2 separate regions of the Homo sapiens genome follow, and region 2 is linked to region 1. The links come from fine-mapping of genetic effects on gene expression. A gene starts in region 1. The other region holds a variant in brackets. All regions are shown on one strand. Distances are between the middles of the regions.

Region 1 (8,332 bases):
CTTCTTTTCTCTACTATTTGCATAAAACTTTGAGGGCAGAGGTTAGAAGACGGCTCAGCAACCTTTATATTCACCGTAAGAGGCCCAATGAAATAAATTTTGTCACAGAAATTTAATATCATTTAGTATCCCACAGCCTTAAAATGGATTTTTTCCAACTAGCAGTACTGAAACGGGAAGCACTCCATGAGACACATATTATGAAGGGAACTCAAGGTACAGAAAAATGTTAACAGTGAGACAGCAAATCTTTGTTTCTGAACACACACCTATGTATCTGCATAAATGTTTCATGGACAGATATACAAAAGAGCTTAACAATGTTTCCCATTAGAAACTTTGAAGAAGTTAAGACCTGACAATCTCAACAAATATTTTACCATATGCATTAGCAGTTTTTCTTCAAGTAACATTAGATTCATGAAAACTTGCGTCTTTCTGTTGGAGGATTGCAATGAATGATTCTCCTTACAAACCTTGCGGTTATATGTTAATACAAAATAGATGTGTATTTATGACCAAAAAAAAGGGCCCATAGCCTAAAAAGATTCTCAGAGAAGTTTATTTTCTAAAATGTTAAAATTATTTTAGTAATAGTTAAGTGTCCCATAAATCTAAGTAATTTTGAATGCTTCACATTTCAAATTTATTGGAACCTAATATTATCTACTTTTTCACGTAAAAAAAAAAAAAAAAAAAAAGGTGTGTAACCTGATGTTCAAGAAAGGCAACAGGACGGATATGATTGCAAACTGAATGCCTTTCTAGAATCAAGCAGAATGTGCTCTCAACCTGCACGTTTAACATCACACTGACTGACAGATTTGGAGGGTAGGACAAAAGACCAAGAATGAAACAGAATTGAGAACTTCTAACATGACAGTGAATTTAACAGATTCATTAAATCCTATTTGCATATTAATTCCTACTTCTCTCAACTTTAAAATTTTGTAGGCAGAAGTTTTATGACTCTTCATGAATTTCAAAATTTAATTCTAATTTAATTCTAACATCTTAATTCTAAGTTAGCTTTGCAATAAAGATCAGTCCTCTTGAAGAAATTAACTAAATTTAGAATAAGACTAATCTGTCATAATTAACACAAATTTTCTCTATTTTTATATAGCAATGTTTTTCAACACAAACTTTGGATAACCTTAATAAAGTAACATAAAAACCACAGTCAAAATTCACAACTAGCACATAACTGGGAAAACCTTGGGTACAGTGATGGCTTTTTCAATATAATACCAAAGGCACATCCATCAAAGAAATAATTCATAGTGAAGCTTCATTAAAATTAAAAACTTCTGCTCTGAAAAAGACACTGTCAAGAGAATGTGAAGCCACAGATTGGGAGAAAATCTTTATAGAACACATACATATAAAGAACTAGTATCCAAAACATACAAAGAACTCTTAAAACTCAACAATGAGAAATCAAACCACCTAATTAAAAAATGCGGAGAAAGATCTAAACAGACACCTCACCAAAAAAGGGACACAGATGACAAGTATGCGTCTGAAAAGATGCTCATGTCATTTATCATCAGGGAATCGCAATTCAAGACAAAGAGAAACCACCACACACCTACTAGGATGGACAAAGTCTACATACTGACAGCACCAAATGCTGGCAAGGAGGTGGAGCAAAAGGAAATCTCATTCCTTGTCCATGGGAGTGCAAACTGGTGCAGCCACTTTGGAAGACGGTTTGGCGGTTTCTTATAAAACTAAACACTCTCACCATGCAATCCAGCAATCAGGCTCCTAGGTATTTACCCAAGTTGGAAACTTAAATTCACACAAAAACCTGCACCTGATGTTTACAGCTGGTCTATGAATAAACTGATGTTTATTCATAATTGCCAAAACGTGAAAGCAACCAACATGCCCTCCAGAGGGTGAAGGGATAAACTGTGGTACACCCAAACAGTGGAATACTATTCAGTGCTAAAAAGAAACGAGCTACAAGCCGTGAAAAGAAATGCAGGAACCTTAAATGCATCTTTCTAAGTGAGAGAAACCTACCTGAAAAAGCTACACACTGTGAATGCAACCAAATGACATTCTGGAAAACTATGGCGACAGTACAAAGATCAATGTTTGCCAGGGGTTCCGGGGAGGGAGGGTGCACAGAGGGTCTCTAAGGCAGCAAAACTCCTGTGTGTGACACTACAATGGTGGGCAAACGTCAGTACACATTTGTCCAAACCACAGAATGCACAACGAGTGAGCCCTCCCAGGTGAGGACCATGAGCCCGTGTAGGTCCACAGATTGTAACAAACGCACCATTCTGTGGGGGTGATGATAGTGGGGGGCTGGGGATCCATGAGAACTCTCTGTACTTTCTCCTCAAATTTGCTGGGCACCTAAAACTGGATACCTGAAAAATAGAGTCTATTAAAGTTTTTTCCCCCCAAAACCAACACACACTTTAGATGTACAGATAACAGGCCAGGCGCGGTGGCTCACGCCTGTAATCCCAGCACTTCAGAAGGCCGAGGAGGGCAGATCACCTGAGATCATGAGTTCGAGACCAGCCTGACCAACATGGACAACTCTGTCTCTACTAAAAATACAAAATTAGCCAGGCGTGGTGACACATGCTCGTAATCCCAGCTACTCAAGAGGCTGAGGCAGGAGAATCACTTGAACCCGGGAGGGTGCAGTGAGCTGAGATCACGCCACTGCACCCCACCCTGGGCGACAAGAGCGAAACTTCATCTCAAAAAAAAAAAAAAAAAAGTATAGATGACAATTGTGTAAAGGGAAAATCAGAAAAGGAGCTTTAACGAAGGCACTGCCAGCAATTGAATCTAGCTGGAGGATACGAGGAAGAATCTCCTATTCTTCTACTTTTCCGCATGTTAGAAATTTTTCAAAGTAAGAACTTAAGGCCAGGCGTGGTGACTCACGCCTGTGATCCTAGTACCTTGGGAGGCTGAGGCGGGCGGATCACGTGAGCCCAGGAGTTTCAGATCTGCCTGGACAACATAGCAAGACCCCATTTCCACAAAAACGGTTTTTTAAAATTAGCCAGGTGAGGTGGTGCGCACTTGTAGTCCCAGCTACTACAGAGGCTGAGAGAGGAGAATAGCTTGAGCCCAGGCAGGTTGAGGCCGTAGTGAGCCGAGATTGCGCCACTGCACTCCAGCCTAGTAAACGGGGCAAGACCCTGTCTCAAAATAAAAAATAAAAACTTAAGAAAAAAAAGTGGGTTTCAGGATTCATTAGGAAAAATGGGAGAACATAGGAAGACTCAGTTTAAAATTCTCAAGGCTCTATCCAGAAACAATAATATGGCTCATCTTTGACCAATATTAGTTATTTGTAGCTTCTGCAGTTAACTCTGTAGCCACATATAAATTCTCATCATTACATTCAAGAAGAGAGCTGTTTAGAGTAACTATAACATTCTGAAATTAAAAAAAAAAAAGGCACGTAAGCACTAACGCTACCTAAAAGAAATTTCTCAGACAAGTTCAGATAGTAACCATATTTAAGCGCTTAACATAATCGGCTCCATTTTCCATGAGTTAGGAATGGAATTTAACGTTCATAGAAAATCTCTATCAAGAAGAAACAACTCCAGACCCTAAGAGAAACTCTTCTGCTCAGAAACTATTTCCAAGTCCTCGGAAGACAGGTACAAATCCTTATATTCCATTCGGCCTTAACAGCATCAGGAGGAAGTTGCCACACGTTTAACAGAAAGAGATATTTTATGATCCAGAATGCTGGATTTCTGACCTAAATTTCATTGTACATGAAAAAGAGCACTGCAATGGAAAAAGGGAGGGGGGGGGAGGGGGTGGGGGAGGGCACGTCTAAGGCACACAGGGCCCACCTGGGAGCCCTTTCAATTACAAAATTCTAGACATACCAAACATATCTCTACACTCGTCAGGTAAAGGCCTTTCAGTTTTCAGTACAAAGGACTTCTGCCGGCTTCCTTCAGAAAAATCAAGAATTTAAGAAAATACTTGTTATGCAAACAAACATTTAGCCCACTTAACATTGAGCTACGGTCGTCCAAAGCTGCTTAGTGTCCGCGAGGAGGCCGTCCGGATGCGCGATGATTCAGGCCTTCTCCGCCAGCTCCACCCGGGACGCGAGCACCCGGCGTGGACCTCTGCGTCCCGGGCCCACGACGCCCGCGCCGCGGGGTGCGCGCACTGCGTCCCCGCTCTCCTGGGACTGCGCCCCGAGTAACACGTGCAGGGGGCACTGGGTCCCCTGCAAGCGGCGAGAACGCCGGCAGCCCTGGCCAGTTAAGCGGGGAGTGGGTCCACGCGGACCACAGCGGCAACTCAGCCCAGGACGAGCCTCGGGTCAAGTTCTCCGACTCCGCACTCGGGCACCTAGCGGGCCGCGCCCCGGAGCTACGCGGCCCCAACCTCACCTGCCCGCCCAAACTGTGCCCCCAACTACCCGCACCTCCACCTGCGCGCCGCCCACCCTCGCCCTCCACCTGCGCGCCCCCGGCCTACTAGCACTCCCCACCTGCGCACCCCCTCACCTGCGCCTGGGCGGCGGCGGCGGCGGCCGGTGGCGGCCCCCCACGCAGGCCGTCCTCCTCCTCGGGGGGCTCGTCCAGCAGCACTCGGCCCCGGCCCAGCTTCCACATGGTCAGGCGGGCTCCGGCGTCCCTCCGTCCGTGCGTCGGGCTGTGGCTCCGCGTCCCTCCCGGCCGCCGGACGCTCTGCCTGCGGCTCCTGCGGGACGCGGGCCCAGTGGGCCGGGCGGGGCTAGGCGGGGGCGGGGCACCCCCAGAACTAGGCCCGCCCCCTCCCCACCAGGCCCGCCCCAAACCCTCCCCAGGACCCGGCCCGCCCCCAAACCATCCCCAGAACCAGGCCCGCTCCAAGCCCTCCTCAGGACCAGGCCCGCCCCAAACCCTTCCGAAGACCAGACCCGCCCCCAAACCTTCCCCAGGACCAGACCCACCCCCAAATTCGACGGGGCTCCGAATCCCATCCCCCACAGAAAGGTCAACCCCGGCCCCCTCCTCCCAGTGTGGTCCCCGCCACCGCCCCGGCGAGACCCTCGCCCTTCACTGTTCTACTGAACGACGTCCTCACCCCAGGCTACCCCGTCACCTGGTCCCCCCACCTTGACCCCCACCTACCCGCCCCTAGCTGCTTCCTCACCCGGAAACGCCCCCATCCTGAGCCCCCACCGAGCCCCTAGCCCTGCCCTATCCCCGGTTCCCTGGGTCCTCCTCTACCCCCGAGCCCCCACCCGGCCCCCGCAAATTCCCCTCTCCCGGTTCTCTCCTTCTCCCCCGCCGACCCCCACTTACTCCCGGACTGCCCCCTCCCCCCACCCTTTCCCAGACCCTGGCCGGAGGGCGTGGCCACGTCCGCTCGGGTCACCAAGGCAACGGCCGGGAGCGCAGTGCGCATGCGCGCCGCTGGCGCTCAGGCCGCGGCAAGGCTGAGGGGAAGGTGGAGGGGGCACAGTCCGCGGAGCGGCGCCTGTACCCCAGCGCTTCAGGGCATCCCTCGGGGCCTGGGCGCCGGGCATCCGGGACTCATCCCCTCCGGCGCCCGAGGTCGCGGGATAGTGGGGGCGCCGGGAGGAAGCCTCGCCCAGCCCTGGTGGGCGGTGGGGCCGCTGGGGCCTGGGGCGCCGCGGGCTCGGCCCGGACTGACGGCGGTGGGGGGCGGGGATGGGGCCGTGGTGCCGGGCCGCGCAGAACCCTTGGGACCCCCGCGGCGCCCAGGTTGGGGCTCAGGGCCCGGAGAACGTTTTCCCGCGTGGCTATGGCTTTGTCAGAATCAGGAGCGGGAGAGGCGCCCACAGATTCCTGAGGGCAGAACCGCCTGGTTCCCAGGCCGAAAGGAGCCGGCGAGGCGACCCCCGATCCCGGGACGGAGCCGCGGGAACGGGGGATTCTAGGCGTCCGCTCCCGCCCAGCAGGTTAATTTTTCCCGCGACGCGCTTCGTATCGCTTCTTACACCAAATATGTATTCATGTGTTCAGTCATGTAAAAGCGCATTTTGAAGGAGGATCCAGAACTATGAGCTCCCTTGAAAACTGCAAGCTTCGTAACTTTACGACTCTTAAAAAAATGAAATGTACATTTTGAGTTTCCCAGAAGTGATGAGCAGCAAAGCTTTTAAGATGAAAGGGGCTCTGAACTGCCTTTGGGAGATGCCGGCCAGGATCCCGGAGAACCGAGGGGGTGGCGCCCGTGCCCAAGGCCTGGGGGGACCTGGGGCCCTGGCGCGGGACGCACAGGGAGGGCGGGGGCTGGGCCTGGCAGGAGCCCCCAGCCGAGTGGGAAGAGCCAGATAATAACCTAACGATACTAACCTAACTATACCGTCACCCAGAGAGGAGGGCAGCACCCCTCCCACATGCCTCCCTCCCCCGGTGACCGCTAAACCTACCGGCCGCAAACATCACGAAATAGAATTAAACACTGGCGCCTACTAAGGACCACTCCACCCAGTACAAACTAAATTTGAGAGTTCATCTTCACGCAAATAATAAGAATGTTAAAAATGTATATATGCTCCTTTTCAAACAAGGCCTAATAGGCCTGGCCTCCTGGGCTAGGGGGCTTAGAAAATTGCAAATGCAAGATGGCATGGTGTGGCTCCGGGGTGCTGTCAAAATAAGCACATTGCAAGCACAAACTGATGAAAGTCAAAAACTATCAAACAGAGGTTGCAAAACAAAGTCAGGATCCAAACACAGCCCATATAAAGACGCTACAAATAAAACACAGAAAACCAACTCAGAACACTTGGACAAATAACACAAATCCCCCTGGCTAATGCGAAGGAACACAGGGCTTATGCCCAGACAGCTGGCTTCCTCTCAGTCTAGCAACATCCACTCCATGAATTGTCATTAAACTGTAATCCCCTGCAAATCTATGACAATCTGGAAGAAGGTGAGCCTTGCTAAATAAAAAAGCTAACTTACTGAATATTTTAGACATTTAGCTTTCTTCTGAAGAAGAGCACAGCTAGTCAGGATATCTACAACCTAAAGGCCTGGCACAAATGAGAGGGAAGGGGGTTGGGTGGGAGAAGCCGGTGAAACGGCTGTTACGGAGCAGCAGGCATTTCTGGAATTTTGAGAAGAACTTTCCCGAGTACTATGAATTTGACTCAGTTCATTCATTAGCTCCTCTATGAGTTTTATATAATTAAGTCATGCTATTGTTAAGGTCCATAAGAGGCATACTTTACACAATCCAGTGTCATAAAAATACAATTGTTACCACTAAAAATCCATTTTGGGATCGAGAAAGTCATGGTTAAACAACCTTTTCATCTGCTGAGGCCTCAGTTGAAGGAAGCTATTCATTTTAAACTGAATTGCCCTTATTGGCTAATTTGGCCACTGAAAATTCACTGGTACAGGAACTCTAATTTTTTAGATGTAAAGATCAAGCGTGTCATCTCTCTCTGAATTCAAAATGCATAAGGCTCAATTTAGTGAGATTTTGCTCTGGCAGACTTAATTTTAAATAGGAGTGGGGTTTGGGGTGCCATATAGAACTTTCTAGCAACCAAAGCTGTTTAAAAACTACAAGTTTCTTATCCATGGAGGTGATTCGGCAGAGGCTGGATCTTAAGACAGTTGTACCCTCAGTCCTCTGACTTTTTTAAAAAATGGATACATAATATTTTACATATTTGGGGGTACATTTGATATATTGTTACAAGCACGGAATGTGTAATGATCAAGTTAGGATATTTGGGGTATATATCAACTTGGGTATTTTTCAATTCTATGTGTTGGTAATATTTCAAGTTTTCCTTTCTAGCTATTTTGGACTATACAATGCATTGTTACTAACTATAGCTACACTACTCTCCTATCAAACATTGCCTTCTAACTGCATGTTTGTACTCATTAACCAACCTGACTTTACTTCTCCCCCAACATACACACCTTCCCAGCATCTGGTAACTACCATTCTATTCTCTACCTCCAGGATATCAGGATTTTTTTTTAGCTCTCACATATGAGTGAGAACATGTGATATTTGTCTATGTCTGGCTTATTTCACTTAACATAATGATCTCCAGTTCCATCCATGTTGCTGCAAATGACAGGATATGATTCCTTTTTATGACCAAATACTATTCCATTCTGTATATGCACCACATTTTCTTCATCCATTCATCTGTTGATGGACACTTAGGTTGACTCCATATCTTTACTATTGTGATTAATGCTTCAATAAACATGGGTATGCAAATATCCCTTTGATATAACAATTTTCTTTCCTTTGGATAAATATCCAATAGTGGGATTGCTGGATCATATGGTAGCTTATTTTTAGTGGGTTTTTTTTTTTTTTT
Region 2 (8,332 bases), 48 kb after region 1:
ACTGATGGGTCTTGAGTCTTTATCCAATTTGCCAGTCTGTGTCTTTTAATTGGGGCATTTAGCCCATTTACATTTAAGGTTAATATTGTTATGTGTGAATTTGATCCTGTCATTATGATGTTAGCTGGTTATTTTGCTCGTTAGTTGATGCAGTTTCTTCCTAGCATCGATGGACTTTATAATTTGGCATGTTTTTGCAGTGGCTGATACCAGTTGTTTCTTTCCATGTTTAGTGATTCCTTCAGGAGCTCTTGTAAGGCAGGCCTGGTGGTGACAAAAATCTCTCAGCATTTGCTTGTCTGTAAAGGACTTTATTTCTCCTTCACTTATGAAGCTTAGTCTGGATATGAAATTCTGGGTTGAAAATTCTTTTCTTTAAGAATGTTGAGGCCGGGCGCGGTGGCTCACGCTTGTAATCCCAGCACTTTGGGAGGCCGAGGCGGGCGGATCACGAGGTCAGGAGATCGAGACCATCCTGGCTAACACGGTGAAACCCCGTCTCTACTAAAAATACAAAAAAAATTAGCCGGGCGTGATGGTGGGCGCCTGTAGTCCCAGCTACTCGGGAGGCTGAGGCAGGAGAATGGCGTGAACCCTGGAGGCGGAGCTTGCAGTGAGCCGAGATTGCGCCACTGCACTCCTGCCTGGGCCACAGAGCGAGACTCCGTCTCAAAAAAAAAAAAAAAAAAAAAAAAAGAATGTTGAATATTGGCCCCCACTCTCTTCTGCCTTGTAGAGTTTCTGCTGAGAGATCTGCTGTTAGTCTGATGAGTTTCTCTTTGTGGGTAACCCAATCTTTCTGTCTGGCTGCCCTTAACATTTTTTCCTTCATTTCAACCTTGGTGAATCTGACAATTATGTGTCTTGGGGTTGCTCTTCTAGAGGAGTATCTTTGTGGCATTCTCTGTATTTCCTGAATTTGAATGTTGGCCTGCTTTGCTAGGTTGGGGAAGTTCTCCTGGATAATATCCTGAAGAATGTTTTTCAACTTGGTTCCATTCTCCCCATCCCAGGTACACCAATCAGATGTAGATTTGGTCTTTTCACATAGTCCCGTATTTCTTGGAGGCTTTGTTCGTTTCTTTCTACTCTTTTTTTCTCTAAACTTCTCACTTCATTTCATTCATTTGATTTTCAATCACTGATACCCCTTCTTCCACTTGATCGAATTGGCTACTGAAGCTTGTGCATGTGTCACGTAGTTCTCGTGCCATAGTTTTCAGCTCCATCAGGTCATTTAAGGTCTTCTCTATGCTGTTTATTCTAGTTAGCCATTCGTCTAATCTTTTTTCAAGGTTTGTAGCTTCTTTGCGATGGGTTCGAACATCCTCCTTTAGCTTGGAGAAGTTTGTTATTACCGATCTTCTGAAGTGTACTTCTGTCAACTTGTCAAAGTCATTCTCCATCCAGCTTTGTTCCATTGCTGGCGAGAAGCTGCATTCCTTTGGAGGAGAAGAGGTGCTCTGATTTTTAGAATTTTCAGCTTTTCTGCTCTGGTTTCTCGCCATCTTTATGGTTTTATCTACCTTTGGTCTTCGATGATGGTGACCTACAGATGGGGTTTTGGTGTGGATGTCCTTTTTGTTGATGTTGATGCTATTCCTTTCTGTTTGTTAGTTTCCCTTCTAACAGTCAGGACCCTCAGCTGCAGGTCTGTTGGAGTTTGCTGGAGGTCCACTCCAGTGGAGGCTGCAGAACAGCAAATGTTGCTGCCTGATCCTTCCTCTGGAAGCTTCATCTCAGAGGGGCACCTGGTTGTATGAGGTGTCAGTCAGCCCCTACTGGGAGGTGTCTCCCAGTTAGGCTACTCAGGGGTCAGGGACCCACTTGAGGAGGCAGTCTGTCCATTCTCAGATCTCAAACTCTGTGCTAGGAGAACCACTGGTCTCTTCAAAGCTGTCAGACAGGGACATTTATGTCTCCAGAAGTTTCTGCTGCCTTTTGTTCAGCTATGCCCTGCCCCCAGAGGTGGAGTCTACAGAGGCAGGTGGGCCTTGTTGAGCTGCGGTAGGCTCCACCCAGTTCAAGCTTCCTGGCTTTGTTTACCTAGTCAAGCCTCAGCAATGGCGGACGCCCCTCCCCCAGCCTTGCTGCCACCTTGCAGTTCGATCTTGGCCTGCTTTACTAGCAGTGAGCAAGGCTCCATGGGTGTGGGACCCTCCAAGCCAGGCACGGGATATAATTTCCTGGTGTGCTGTTTGCTAAGACCGTTGGAAAAGCACACTATTAGGGCAGGAGTGTCCCAATTTTCCAGGTACTGTCTGTCACAGCTTCCCTTGGCTAGGAAAGGGAATTCCCCAATCCTTTGCACTTGCCAGGTGAGGTGATGCCCCGCCCTTCTTCAGCTCACACTCCATGGGCTGCACCCAGTGTCCAACAAGTCCCAGTGAGATGAACCTGGTAACTCAGTTGGAAATGCAGAAATCACCCATCTTCTATGTCGCTCACACTGGGAGCTGTAGACTGGAGCTGTTCCTATTCGGCCATCTTGGAACAGAGACAGAGAAATTGGAATTCTTATACTGTATTGGTACCTTGCCTTAGATTTGTAAAATGGTGAGGCTGCCATGGAAGAGTTTAACTCAACAAGTACCCAGCAATTCCAGTTTTGGGTATATAACCCCCCACACCAAATTGATAACTGGTGTTCAAAGAGAAACTTGCTCATGAACATTGATAGCAGCTTTATTTTCAATAGGCAGAAGGTAGAATCAACACATACGCCCATCAGCTGAAGATGATAGCAGCTTTATTTTCAACAGGCAGAAGGTAGAATCAACCCATACGCCCATCAGCTGAAAAACGGGTGAGCAAAATGTGGTGTATACAGACAATGGAGTGTTATTTAGCCACAAAAAGGAAGGAGGCACTGACACACACTACACATACATGAAACTTGAAAACATACTAAGTGAGAGAAGGCAGGCATGAAAGGCCACATATTACACAGTTCCACTTACATATCCAGAGTAGGCAAGCCCAGAGACAGGTGGCAGATTAGGGACTGCCAGAGGCTGGGGGCCAGGGGATGGGGAGAGACTTCTAGTGGGGACAGGGCTTCCCACTGGGGTGATGGCGTTAGGCAGAAGTGATTCACAATATTGTGAATGCACTAAATGTCACTAGTGGTAAGTTGTATGTTACGTACATAAAATAAAATAATAACAAAATTAGGAGGCTGATAAAGACCATATATCTGGAGAATCTGGCAGAATGAACTGAAAAACAAACTCAAACAATGAGAGAATTAGTGAGGCAGTCTGGTGTGAAATTAAAAGACACGATCCAAGTGCTTTCATTAAGCAAATAACAAGCTAGAAGCTACAAACAAAGGGAAAGATCACATTTGTAAAAGCAAAAAAAAAGAGCTGAGGAACAGCTCATTCAGGATGTACATCCTCTCTGTCACCTCCATCCATGGCTCAGTTCCGTCGTGCACTGCAGGCTGGTTCCTAAGATGGGGCCCAGGCCCTCGAGGCCCAGGTGCTCTGATGGGCTTGGCCTACCAGAAGCACCGCTAGTGGGAAGAAGAGTTCGGCCCTGTCTTCCCGGCCCTGTCTTCCTGGCTCCCTCTACAGAGACGGCTCCTCCTCTAGGCCTCCTGGAGTGTCTGCTGCGGATGGAGGTACTTTGAGACAGCAGAGTTTTAAGGATGCCCCTGCACCTGGAGCTGCTCCTATGATTGTGTAAAGTTACCTGGCAGGGGCTTCATCTCATCACATATTTGGTGAAGCAGGGAGCTTTCCCCAGCTGGTGCAAAGGGCAGTCAGACAGATTCAGGGCATGCAAAGGACTGGGCTCACTGCCGTCACTGGCTTTAAAGATGGATGTGGCCCTGGGAGAAGAATGCAGGTGCCCTGAGGAGCTGAGAGTGGCCCCAGGTGACAGTCAGTGAGGAAACAAGAGTTTCAGTCCCACGGCTGCAAAGAATCAAATGCTGTCAATGACCTGAAGGTGCCCTGGAGCCCTTAGTTCTGTTCCTGCTGTGGCTGCACCTCTCCCTTTCATCCAACAAAGATGCCCCAGATGAACTCTCACTCAGAGAGCAAGGCACTGAGAGCTGCGCACTGTTCCATTCCCAAAGCATTTATGTAAGTTATTAAAGGGAAGAGAATAAAAGCCTGAGATGGTCTTCAAAATGTTATATCTTGCTCTGAGCGATGAAAAATTATGCATGCTTTCTCCTATGATATGCATCTGTTAGAGAGAGGAGAGCTCTCTGAAGGCCAAGTGAGGCACTACCTCTGGATGTGGGGCACCGAGTCACTGTGCACATTTTATTATGTGTCTGTCTGTTCCTGTGCTCAGGGGACAGGAGTGAATAATGCACAGGCCCTTCAATGAATCCACCGTTGTGTGTGTGGACGTGGCCAAGGAACTGTGATGGAACACACTCATGAAGAACAAAGCCGTGGAGGTCACAGCAGCAGGCAGCCAGGTCTGGAGGAGATGCATGGGAGCCAGACATCCGCATGCAAGCGAGGAGGGCGCCCCCAGGAGTTCACAATTTATTTGTCAGCATGAAAAATCCCATCTGGAAAGGCAGTGACACAGAGCAGTAACTAACAAGGACAAAAAAGGG[TC/T]AAATAAGGAAAAAAGCCAAATGTATCTTTTCTGAAATCTCTCCCAAAATCTTGAGAGGAGGCTACATTTGTGGTACATAATAACAGATTATCTCTCTTTCTCCTCCTCCTCTTTCTGTCTCTCTGTCTCTCTCACACAGGCTACTCCCGAGGCTCTGCACCCAGCTGCTCCCCTCAGCACGTAGCCCTGAAGCCCAGTCAGCTTCTCCGATGCTGTTAGCTTCTCTCCTCTGCTCAGTACGTTTTATCTCCACCAGCGCAGCAGGGCCTGACCCATTGCAGTGTTGGGAACTTTAAGGTTTCAGGTTCATATCTGGTGCCAAAATTCACAGGATGAGGTTGTCTTTAAAGTCTTTCCTGGCTCTCATATTTTATGAGTCAGTTCTACGATTTTGGAGACAGGAGATATCCCGAACGAAAGCAGAGAGAACAAGGGTTGTAATCTATCTGGGTTTGAGAGGGAGAAGAGGAAAGAGTACTGCAGAGGAGGATAAAAGAACATAAGCCAGGAGCGCGCGGCGGTGCCTGTGGTCCCAGCTACCCTGGCGGCTGAGGCAGTAGTCAGCAGAGATCACGCAACTGCACTCCAGCCCGGGCAGCAGACCAAGACCCTGTCTCAAAAAGTAAATAAATAAAAAGGAACACATTGGAGGCTGGAATGTCCTGGGCACCTTGACTCTAGACCTGCCAGAGCACTGTGATAGGAGGGCAGTGAGGGGAGCGCTGTGAGGGGGGAGCTCTGTGAGGGGAGCGCTGTGAGGGAACGCGGGGAGGGATGTGAGGGAGCGCTGCGCCAGAGCGCTGTGAGGGGAGCACTGTGAGGGGAGGGATGTGAGGGGGGCGCTGTGAGGGGAGCTCTGTGAAGGGAGCGCTATGCCAGAGCGCTGTGAGGGGAGCACTGTGAGGGGAGGGATGTGAGGGGAGCTCTGTGAGGGGAGGGATGTGAAGGGGGCGCTGTGAGGGGAGCTCTGTGAGGGGAGGGATGTGAGGGGGGGCCCTGTGAAGGGAGGGATGTGAACAAGTGCTGTGAGGGGAGCGCCGTGAGCGGAGACATGTGGGGGGAGCGCCCTGACGGGAAGGATGTGAGGGGGGCCCAGTGAGGGGAGGGATGTGAGGGGAGCGCCATGAGTGGAAGGATGTGAGGGGAGTGCCGTGAGCAGAAGGAAGTGAGGGGGCACTGTGAGGGGAGAGATGTGAGGGGAGCGCCCTGAGGGGAGGGATGTGAGAGGGGCGCTGTGAGGGGAGCGCCACGAGGGGAAGGATGTGAGAGGAGTGCCATGAGCAGAAGGATGTGAAGGGGCGCTGTGAGGGGAGAGATGTGAGGGGAGCCCCTGAGAGGAGGGATGTGAGAGGGGCACTATGAGGGGAGGGATGTGAGGGGAGCGCTGTGAGGGGAGCGTCGTGAGGGGAGCGCCGTGAGGGGAGCGCCGTGAGGGGAAGGATGTGAGGGGAGTGCCGTGAGCAGAAGGATGTGAGGGGGTCGCTGTGAGGGGAGAGATGTGAGTGGAGCGCCGTGAGGGGAGAGATGTGAGGGGAGCACTGTGCCAGAGTGCTGTGACGGGAGCACTGTGAGGGGACTGTTGTGAGGGGAGCACCGTGAGGAGAGGGATGTGAGGGGGGCGCTGTGAGGAAAGGGATGTGAGCAAACATTGTGAGGGGAGCACCGTGAGGGGAGAGATGTGAAGGGAGCGCCCTGAGGGGAGGGATGTGAAGGGGGCGCTGTGAGGGGAGGGATGTGAGTGAGTACTGTGAGGAGAGCTCAGTGAGGGGACGTTTTAAGCACAACTCCTTGGTTTCACCTTCATCATTCTCTCCCTTCTTCCTCCACACAGGCCTGGCACTGGCATGGGTTGCTGAGAAGGCCCCTGAAGCAGCATTTCATCACCACCATGGCCTCCAAGAGAGCGGTGCCTCCTATGAGCCCTAGAGTGCAGGTTCTCCAAGGGCCACTGAGGCCCTGAGAACCTTCCTCTGCTCACCGTCAAGGTCAGCCGGGACCTCGGAAACTGGTGTTCCTCACTCTCCCTCTCATGTAAACACCTCTGGCTGACCTGGTCGTGGGAGCAGGCTCGGACCTGTGAGGCCAGGCAAGGGTCCCTGGTGAGAAGGGCCTGTTCACCTCCCCTGCCTCCTGCCAGTCACTGTGGTTCTCTCCGGGGTCATCATGGAAGTCTCCTTCTTGGTTCTTCGTCAGCCAAGAGTGACAGGAACAAGAACAACAAGAGGACCTCGTGCAAGGAGCTCCTGATGCCTTCCCCAGTCCATTTGTCCACCCCTTGGGTGGCTCAGACTCAAGCTGCTCTTCTCTCTACGTCTGCTCCTAAACACTGGGGGGTCATCACTCAAGGATAAGGGCTTTTTTTTTTTTTAACCAACAATATCTTTGCTCTAAAGCAAAGCAGGGCTAAGGATGGAGAGACAGAGACCTCCCATCTTTGCTCCTTCACCTGTCAATCAAAAGGGCAATAAAGTGATTGAAAAGGCATAAAAACAAAGCTCAGAGAGGAGAAGACAGGAAGACTCGGCCAGGAGGGAGGACTGAGCAATCTCAGGTAAAGCAGGAACAGGGAAGCCCAGCTACCACCCAGGGGATCTGCGCCAGACTCAGGAAACCTCAGAAGTCAGGGGTGTCAAGGAGCCCGGGTGATTGTGAGGCACCTCAGGCATGCAGGGGCAGCTGGGCAGTGAGGGTGGAGGACACCTTGCTGAGAGGGGTGAGTGGAGCCCCCCTGTGGAGAGTGGGATACCTCACCCACCTTCCAAGCTCCCAGAATGTCAAAGGCCAGGCTCATACCCCCAGGCAGGAGGTCAAAGAATTAAAGGACCTCTCTCTTGGCTGTGGAGGGAAAATCTACAAATGCAGTCTTTGGACTTAGGAGTCCCCAGTGGAAGAACTGGGCCATCTCCACTGCTGTGAGGTGAGGGCCACTCGTAAGCAAGCCCCCATACGCCTCCTACAGCTGTTGGGCCTTGGCTGCAGAGCTGTTGGGCACTTGGCTGCAGAGCTGTTATCAGCCAGGGTCCCAGCAGGAAATCCATGACACGCTCAAGCTTGGTAAATCGAGAAAAGTTTAATTAAGGAACTGCTATTGAAAAGCAATAATCAAAAAAGAACTAATGGCAAACGTGCAGGCAGTCTTGGAATACCATGGGAGAGCTGCAGTGCCCTGCCACCAGCACAAACTCCAGTCTTGAAGGACATGCCTGAGCAGTTAGTGGAACCCAGGAAGGCCACAGGACAGCAGGGATGCCCAGCAAGGCCTTCAGGAGAGGGATGCAGATGACTGGAGGAAACCTCTATGGGAAAGAGCCCGGCTGCATCTCCTCCCCACACACCATCCACTCCCATTGGAAGCACATGTGGCTGCTTCCTGCATGTGAGTGGGTTGGGGTGGGGGGTCTGTGTGGAGGATGCAGGCCAGAGACCCAGGGAGACCCTAACATGACACAGACCCAGAGAGAAACCTGGAGGAAGCCGAGTGGATGGAGGGAGTAGGACGCAGACAAACCTATGATATTCGCAGAGAAACAGGGTGGCCGTGAAATAAGAGCAGACACCGCAAAACTACACACAGAATCTTTCAATTAAAAGTAGAATAGACATAAATAATTTAATAGAAATGTTGAATATTAGACTCATTTACATCTCACAGAAACAGAATAAAAAGATGCACAGATGAAGAATTAGGGAGGAATGAAAAAAGAAATAGAGAATCAACCCAGAAATTCCAATACCCACTTAATGAGAA

The links.
Region 2: its variant is fine-mapped to the expression of TDRP in whole blood (TOPMed, PIP above 0.99).

What each region holds. Positions count from the first base shown.
Region 1 is chr8:540,127-548,458 of GRCh38, forward strand. TDRP (testis development related protein) reads right to left here and starts at 4,708. Exons shown (of 3, transcript NM_001384899.1): 1 at 4,524-4,708. The coding sequence starts at 4,631. RefSeq lists an enhancer at 5,687-6,187.
Region 2 is chr8:587,700-596,031 of GRCh38, forward strand. No RefSeq gene overlaps it. Among named protein-coding and RNA genes, the nearest start is that of TDRP, 47 kb to the left of the region's middle. The variant TC/T (reference allele first, on the strand shown) is at 4,583.